Linked DNA regions of Homo sapiens. The protein of the gene in region 1 purifies or fractionates together with the protein of each later gene. This does not show direct contact. Each region holds a gene or a part of one and is shown on either strand. Other genes may lie near its edges.

The links.
Region 2: the proteins of TRAM2 (region 1) and ZDHHC11 purify together in Homo sapiens (co-immunoprecipitation; one large-scale study listed by IntAct). This does not show direct contact.

What each region holds. Positions count from the first base shown.
Region 1 is NC_000006.12:52,514,561-52,518,060, forward strand, and holds part of TRAM2 (translocating chain-associated membrane protein 2), read right to left. Parts: intron 2,178-3,500; coding exon 2,068-2,177; intron 1,563-2,067; coding exon 1,446-1,562; intron 1-1,445. UniProt on the Homo sapiens protein: Necessary for collagen type I synthesis. May couple the activity of the ER Ca(2+) pump SERCA2B with the activity of the translocon.
Region 2 is NC_000005.10:833,987-837,486, forward strand, and holds part of ZDHHC11 (palmitoyltransferase ZDHHC11), read right to left. Parts: exon of another isoform or gene 3,495-3,500; coding exon 3,379-3,494; intron 1-3,378. UniProt on the Homo sapiens protein: Endoplasmic reticulum-localized palmitoyltransferase that could catalyze the addition of palmitate onto various protein substrates and be involved in a variety of cellular processes.

The sequences.
Region 1 (3,500 bases):
GAGAGAGGCAAAGACAGAGCTGTTGAGCATTTCACACCCTGGAAGGCGTGTTAAGCAACTTGGCTCTAGCCTCCAAATCTGGTCGCCACGTGTCACAGCTGGGGTGGAATGTTTGGGGGTGAAGTTGAAAGGGTAAAAGTGATTCAGAGATGAGGCAATCCTCCTGAACGGCGTCTTTGGTATCTTGAGGCTGTTCTGCTTCAAAGCAGCTTAGGCCTCCGGGGGTGGGCATGAACTGAACGTCAAGGGACTGGGTGTGGTCTGAAACCTGGAAGTCTAGGGACTTGTGTGCATGGCACAACAGCAGGGATGCACTGTTCACACAGTGTCAATCTGCCCCTGGGACTGTGACAGCCTTGCCTGAGAGGACAGAAGTCTTGGGCCCCCCATTTAAAATTCCTAGTATTCTGCTTAGGAAAGCTGCTCTATGATGAAATGATAATAGGAATAAAAACAATGTACAAAAGGACACGTTGACTCTGGCTTTGAGAATAGGAATTCAACATTCAACTCTGGAGACAGAGTTCCTTGTGATGGGAGCGCCCATCACTGTCACTGAAAGAAGAGGAAGAAAGTGAGGGATCTGTGGAAGGCCGGGAAGGAAATCTTAAAGAGGTCACAGGGTTGCTGAATTTTCCAAGACCCAGGCATGGATTTCTCAGGGGGCCAGGTTACAGGAAGGTAGAGCTCCAGGTGGTGGTGGGTACTAACTCAATACTTCCTAGCAGGACAGGCAAGGTCTTGTTACAGGAAACTCCAAAGGACCATCCACATTCCTTTCTATGAGGGAATTTTGCTGTATCAAAGGCTGCTTGAAATAAGAGTCTGTTTACATAGAAAGGAGGGGAAAATTGTCTGGTCCTGCAGGCATTTGTTGAAACGGCATTGACTCTCACAGGATTTGATGAGCTGACAGAGTGAGGCTGGCCTCGTTTATAGAAGGCCAAGGTAGTAAAACAGAGAGTAAGCTGGGCTTGGAACTCTATCTCCAAGTCCAAACTATCCTTTGCTGTTTCAAAACCACAGAACCACAGGCATACTGCAAAATTTGAGCTTGGAACTCTTCAATCTGTAACATGGGTATCAGAATGAACATCAAATGTATCTTATGGGACAGTGTTTGTAGAAGAGCCTTGTAAAACAATACAGTATTATGTAGATACATGGTATCATTACTGCAGTATTGCATAATGATTATAACAAGTGGTGACTGTTGGCCAAGATGACTCTCTCCAGCTATAAAATGGCATCTCTCTGTAATACCATGAGGATGCAAACATAGCTTCAGTTCTAAGAAGCTAAGAAGGTTCTAAGAAACTTGTTCCCCTTAACAGAAAAAGAAAAAGAGCAAGGGGTCCTTTGCAGTCATTTGATTAGCAATCCCAGAGCTGGAATTGCCCCTTGGTTTGAGCTCTCCCGCTTCAGCAGTCCTGAGAATGGCTCACCGTCACCACCACGTAGAAGCACCAAATCACCGAGGTGAAATGAAAGACGACCAGCTGTCCAGATTCATTGAACTTGCTGTGTTTGACTTTGGAGAGATGAAGCCGTTTGCTGATTTTCTAAAGAATAAAGAAAACCCCTCATATTAATATACAAATGTATCCATATTGGGCAGGTTTCAAACTCTTGTATTCTCCCCACAGAAGGGTTGAACATCGTTAGAAGTTTGCAGCTGGCCATAATCCAAGTCATTTGGTGTAAGCCTACTGCGTGCATACAGTGCTTGGTCTAAGGCAAGCATTTTGAGAAAGTGGCAAGATGAATGTCTCTAGCCTATGTGTAAAGAAAATAACCCCAATTACTCAATGTGCCCCAGACCCATAAGGACACCATCTCCAGACAGCTTTCTCTCTGTGTAATAAATACTGCTGTCCCATGTGCTGATTAAAGGAGGCTGTGAACAGAAACCAAAGTGTGGTGAAGGAAGCCCAGGCAATAGACCCAACCAGTGCAAGCAAGTTGGAGGATGAATGGGTGCAGAGCTGCAGTTTCCTCCAAGGCCAGGTCCTCCACCCCAAGGCACCTCCCCAGCTTCTGATCTCAGAATCCAGACATGTCACTTACATCTAAAATGTACTCCTGAACCACAGCATGCAAGATGATGGTGATGAAGATGTAGAACAAGATTGTGACCAGGTCCTTAGGGCCATAGTGGTAGTGCACGGTCTCACTGTCTGTGGAGGTAATAAAAGTCCCATCAGCATCCCTGGGGGAAGGAAATACTCTGGGACCCAAAACTGAAATGAGATGGGAGGCGAAATGCGCCATCAAATGCTACCCGTTTGCTATAGCCTCAGACTCAGAAGAAGGTTTCTGCCCCAGAATCCTGCCCACCCTCTGGTCTTAGCACTTGGAAGCACCAATGGAGATGGCTAAGGAGAACCAAGTGCATGGCTGTATTGTCATAACAGTATCTCCTGAGTCTGTGCAGCAGAGCACAGTGGTTATAACAGAGCCAGGGTTAGAGACCACCAATCCCCATCACTGGCTCTATCACTCCCTAACTGTGTGACTGTGGATAAAGGACTAACCTCTTTGAGCCTCAGTTTCCTCCCCTGTAAAATGGGACTATAGTTATGCTTTCTCAAGAAAGCACCGCGTAAGGGCTAAATGTGGACTCAGAAGCTGGACTCTTCAGTTTGTATTGCAGCTCTGTCCTATGTGACCCAGGGGTATCTCCATGTGTGACTTTTCTGTACCTCAGTTTTCTCATCTGAAAAATGAGGACAACATTTCCTGCATAGTAAGTTTATTATGAGAATTAAATGAATAAATGCGAAGTGCTTAGAACAGTGTCTGGCACATAGTTAAGTGCTATATATGCACTTGCTATTATTTTTGTTGTTGGGCTAGTGCAAGGATCAAATGAGATAATTTGCTTACAACAGTACCAACAATTTACAGTAAGTCTGCAATAAATGGTGGCTTATTAAAATACAATTAAATAGTAATAAATTAGACAACATCCCAGGTATAGAAATCTTGTGAAACTCCGCCATTGCAGCCTGTGGACAGAGGAGAATCTGCATCCTTGCTCCAGTCAGTGGGCAGCAGGCTGCGGGGCTGTGAGCCTGGTGGCCGTGTGCCTGGGTCTGGGCTGCTCTCTGCAACCCCCACCTCCACCAGGCAAATGGCTGCTCTCCAGCTGTGCTGCATTCGCTCTGAGTCACACACACATGAGTCATCTCACTGCTGGGATGCATTTACCAGAAGGTAGCCAGGCTCAGTTTGTTTCAGGGTGGCCAGGGAACAAAGTCAAGCTGATTGGGTCACTCTGGGAGTCCACCCTAATCTCAGCCACCCTAGACTGGGAGAATGTAACGGTGGGCAGTGGTGAGGGGGTGGGAGGAGGTGGCGAGGACAGAGAGAACATGATCTTGGAAATCAGACAAACTTTCCTTTTTCCTCTCCCTCTTCCTTTCCACAAAGACCTATTCTGTGAGAGGCACTGGGCTAACTGTTGAAACATGGAGATAAAAGACACCACCCCCGGTTGG
Region 2 (3,500 bases), on another chromosome or scaffold:
GTGAGAAACTGGGAGTGGGATTCTGGTCATGTATTAGACATTTATCTTTTAAAGAAATGCCAAACTGCTTTCCAGTGTGGTGGCACTTTACACCCTCATTTAACTCCCACTAGCAAAAAAACGCAGGAGACTTGCAATTTCTCTACAACTTCACCAACCCTCGGTGGTGTCTGTCTTGTTGATGACAAGCATTCTCCTGGGTGTGTGGTAGTATCTGATTGTGGTTTTTATTTGCAGCTGCCTGATGTAGAATGATGTTGAGCATTTTTTTCCATGTGCTTATGTGGCATCCATATATCTATACATCTACATCTACCTTGGTAAGGAGTTTGTTCAAATCTTTTGCCCATTTTTTATATGTATGTATGTATTTTTATTTATTTTTGTAGAGATGCTCAGGCTGGTCTTGAACTCCTGGCCTCAAGCAATCCTCTTGCTTGGCCTCCCAAAGCACTGAGATTATAGGTGCTTCCCATTGTGTCCAGCCCTCTTGCCCATTTGAAAAACTGAGTTTTCTGTTTGTTTATGTTTTTGTTTGTTGTTTTTTTACAATTGCACTTTGAAAGCTCTTTGTGTCTTTGTGTATTCTGGACATCAGTCTAAGACTTGAAAATATTTTGTTTGCCTGTGGCTTGCACAGGAATGAACACCTGGCTTTATTGTGCATTGCTTTACTGCACTTCACAGATACTGTGTTTTTTCACAAATTGAGGGTTTGTGGTGACCCTGGTCAAGCAAGTATGTCGGCGCCATTTTCCCCGCAGTGTGTGCTCACTTCAATTGTCTGTGTAAGCAGCTTTTAGCAATAAAGCACTTTTAATTCAGACACATAGTTTTTAGACATAATGCTGTTGCACACGTCATGTAAACGTAACTTTTATAAGCACTGGGAAACCAGAAATTCATGTGACTTGTTTTACTGACATGTTTACTTTATTGTGGCTTTCTAAAACCAAACCTGCAGTATCTCTCATGTGTGCCTGTATTTTTATTTTCTTAATGGTGACTTTTGAAGAGCAAATATTTTCAATTTTGGTAAAGTCCAAACTATGATTTTTTTCTTTAATAGGCAGTGATTTTGGTGTCAGATCAAAGACAAGCTTTGTCTCACTAAAGATCACAGAGATTTCATTCTATGCTTGTTTCTAGAAGTGTTCTATGTTCAGCTTTTAAGTTTAGGTGTCAGATGGATTTGGGGCTAATTCTTCCGTGGCGAATGAAGTGATCCTGGGTAATCTTTGTACAGGTATGAAGAACTCAATCATTCTTTTTTCTTTTCCATGTGGATATCCAATTGTTCTAGTACCACTTGTTGAACTATAATTTCTCCCTATTTAATGATTTTAGTACCATTATTTAAAGTCAATTGACCATAAATGAAAGCTTTAACTTTGGACCTTTCTTCTGGTCCATTTCTCTATATCTGTCTCTGTCGGTGCCACACTGTTTTTATTACTGTAGCTTTATGTCTCTCTCTCTGTCAGCGCCACCTGTCTTTAGTGCTACAGCTTTATAGTAACATTTAAAGTCTGGTTGTGTAAGTTCTCCAATTTTATTTTTTCTCAAAATCATTTGGCTAGTACAGTAGCCTAGGTCTTTTGAATTTGCATATACATTTTAGGACCACCTTGTCATTTCTGCTAAAACAGAAGCCTGCTGGGGTTCAGCAGGGATTGTGGTAAATCTGTAGATAAGTTTTGGGGAAAATTGCCCTTTTAATAGTATTTTTTTCCAATCTATGAATGCTGTACACCTTTTCACTTAATAGAGCGTCTCTGACTTCTCTCAGTCATGGTGTGTAGCTTTCAGTGTACATATTTGCATAAGGTTTGTCAAATTTATTCTTTTTTTATTAGACTATGAAAGGAAGTTTTAAAAATATAACCCGGATTTTTCATTGCTGGTGGATAGAGATGTGCGAGCGTGTATTTTAATATGTGCCCCACATCCTTGTTAAGTGATTTAATTATCTTAACTAGGTCTTAAAACATACTTTTTAGGTTTCATTGTCTGCAAATAAACACAGTTTTATTTTGTATTCTCTGTGCCTTCATTTTCCCTGCTATGCTGGGCTGGCCAGAATGTGACTGTGATATCAGAAGTAGGAGGAAAGGGCGTCATCACCTGTGCCCAGCCTCCAAGAGAGGGTCACAAGCCTTTCACCAGTAAATGTCACGTCAGGTACACAGGGTGCTTTCCTATCATTCCTAGGTCACTGAGATTTGTTAAAAATCATGAATGGGAACTTGCTGTTAACAAACCCTTTTCTGCATTGATTGGCATGATTGCGTGGTTACCGTTCTCTATTGGACTAACGTGCTGAGCTGTAGTAATTGATTCCTAGGCCTTAAGCCACTGCTTACCCCTGGAGTGATATCACTTGGCCACAGTGCACATTCCTGCCCCGTGCTGCTCGATTTGGTTTCCCAAGGTCTTATCAGTGATCTCTGCCTGTGTTTCCTGAATGTACTGGCTTATGAATATCTGGTTTGGTGTCAGGTTGATAGTGGCATTGCTGAATGAGTTGGGAAGTGTTGCTTCCTTCTCTGTTTTCTGAAAGAGTCTGTGTGTAGGTTGTATTGTATTTTTTCTTTAAATCTTTGCTGGAATTCATGCATGAAGACTACAGGGCCTGGGATTTTTCTTCACTGGGAGATTTTAAATTAGTAGTTTAGTCTCTTGGCTGTTCTATGTCTATTTAGACTTTCTATGTCTTCTTGAGTTAGTTATAATAATTCATGTCACTTAACCGGAAAGGGAACTAACTTCCTTAAGTTAAAAATCATGTTTCAGGCCAGGTACAGTGACTCATGCTTGTAATCCCAGCACTTTCGGAGGCCAAGGCGGGCGGATCACCTGAGGCCAGAAGTTTGAGACCAGCCTGGCGTGTTAAAACCACATCTCTACTAAAAATACAAAAATTAGTCGGGCGTAGTGGCATACATCTGTGATCCCAGCTACTTGGGAGGCTGAGGTAGGCAAACTGTTTGAACCCAGGAGGTGGAGGCTACAATGAGCTGAGATTTCACCACTTCACTCCACCCTGGGCAACAGAGCGAGACTCTGTCTCAAAAAAAAAGATGCAAAAAGCACATTTCAACTTTGGAAGATGTATCGTGCAGTATAGAAATGTCCAGGAGACTCAGTTCCTTTCCTATCTTTGCACTAGGAAGTCCGTGGTGCATGACTGGTGTTTATGTTCACAAAGACACATAGACACACCCATGCACAGAGCCTCACACACAGACACACACACAGCAGAGTCCATGGGCTGCATCGGCCCTGAAGTAAAGGAGCATGGCTGAGAGGTCCCAACCACCGAGTGACCTTAGACATTGTCCCAGGCCTGGAGAAATGGAGCAGAGAGACAGGTGGTACCTGGAGAACTCCTTTGTCCATTTGCACGTATGGATCTTTCCTCACTGCTTGATGTTTTGAACTCTCTTCTTTGCGGTTATTAATGAGATACTCAAAGGTGGTCATCTTCTTGGCCTCTGGAA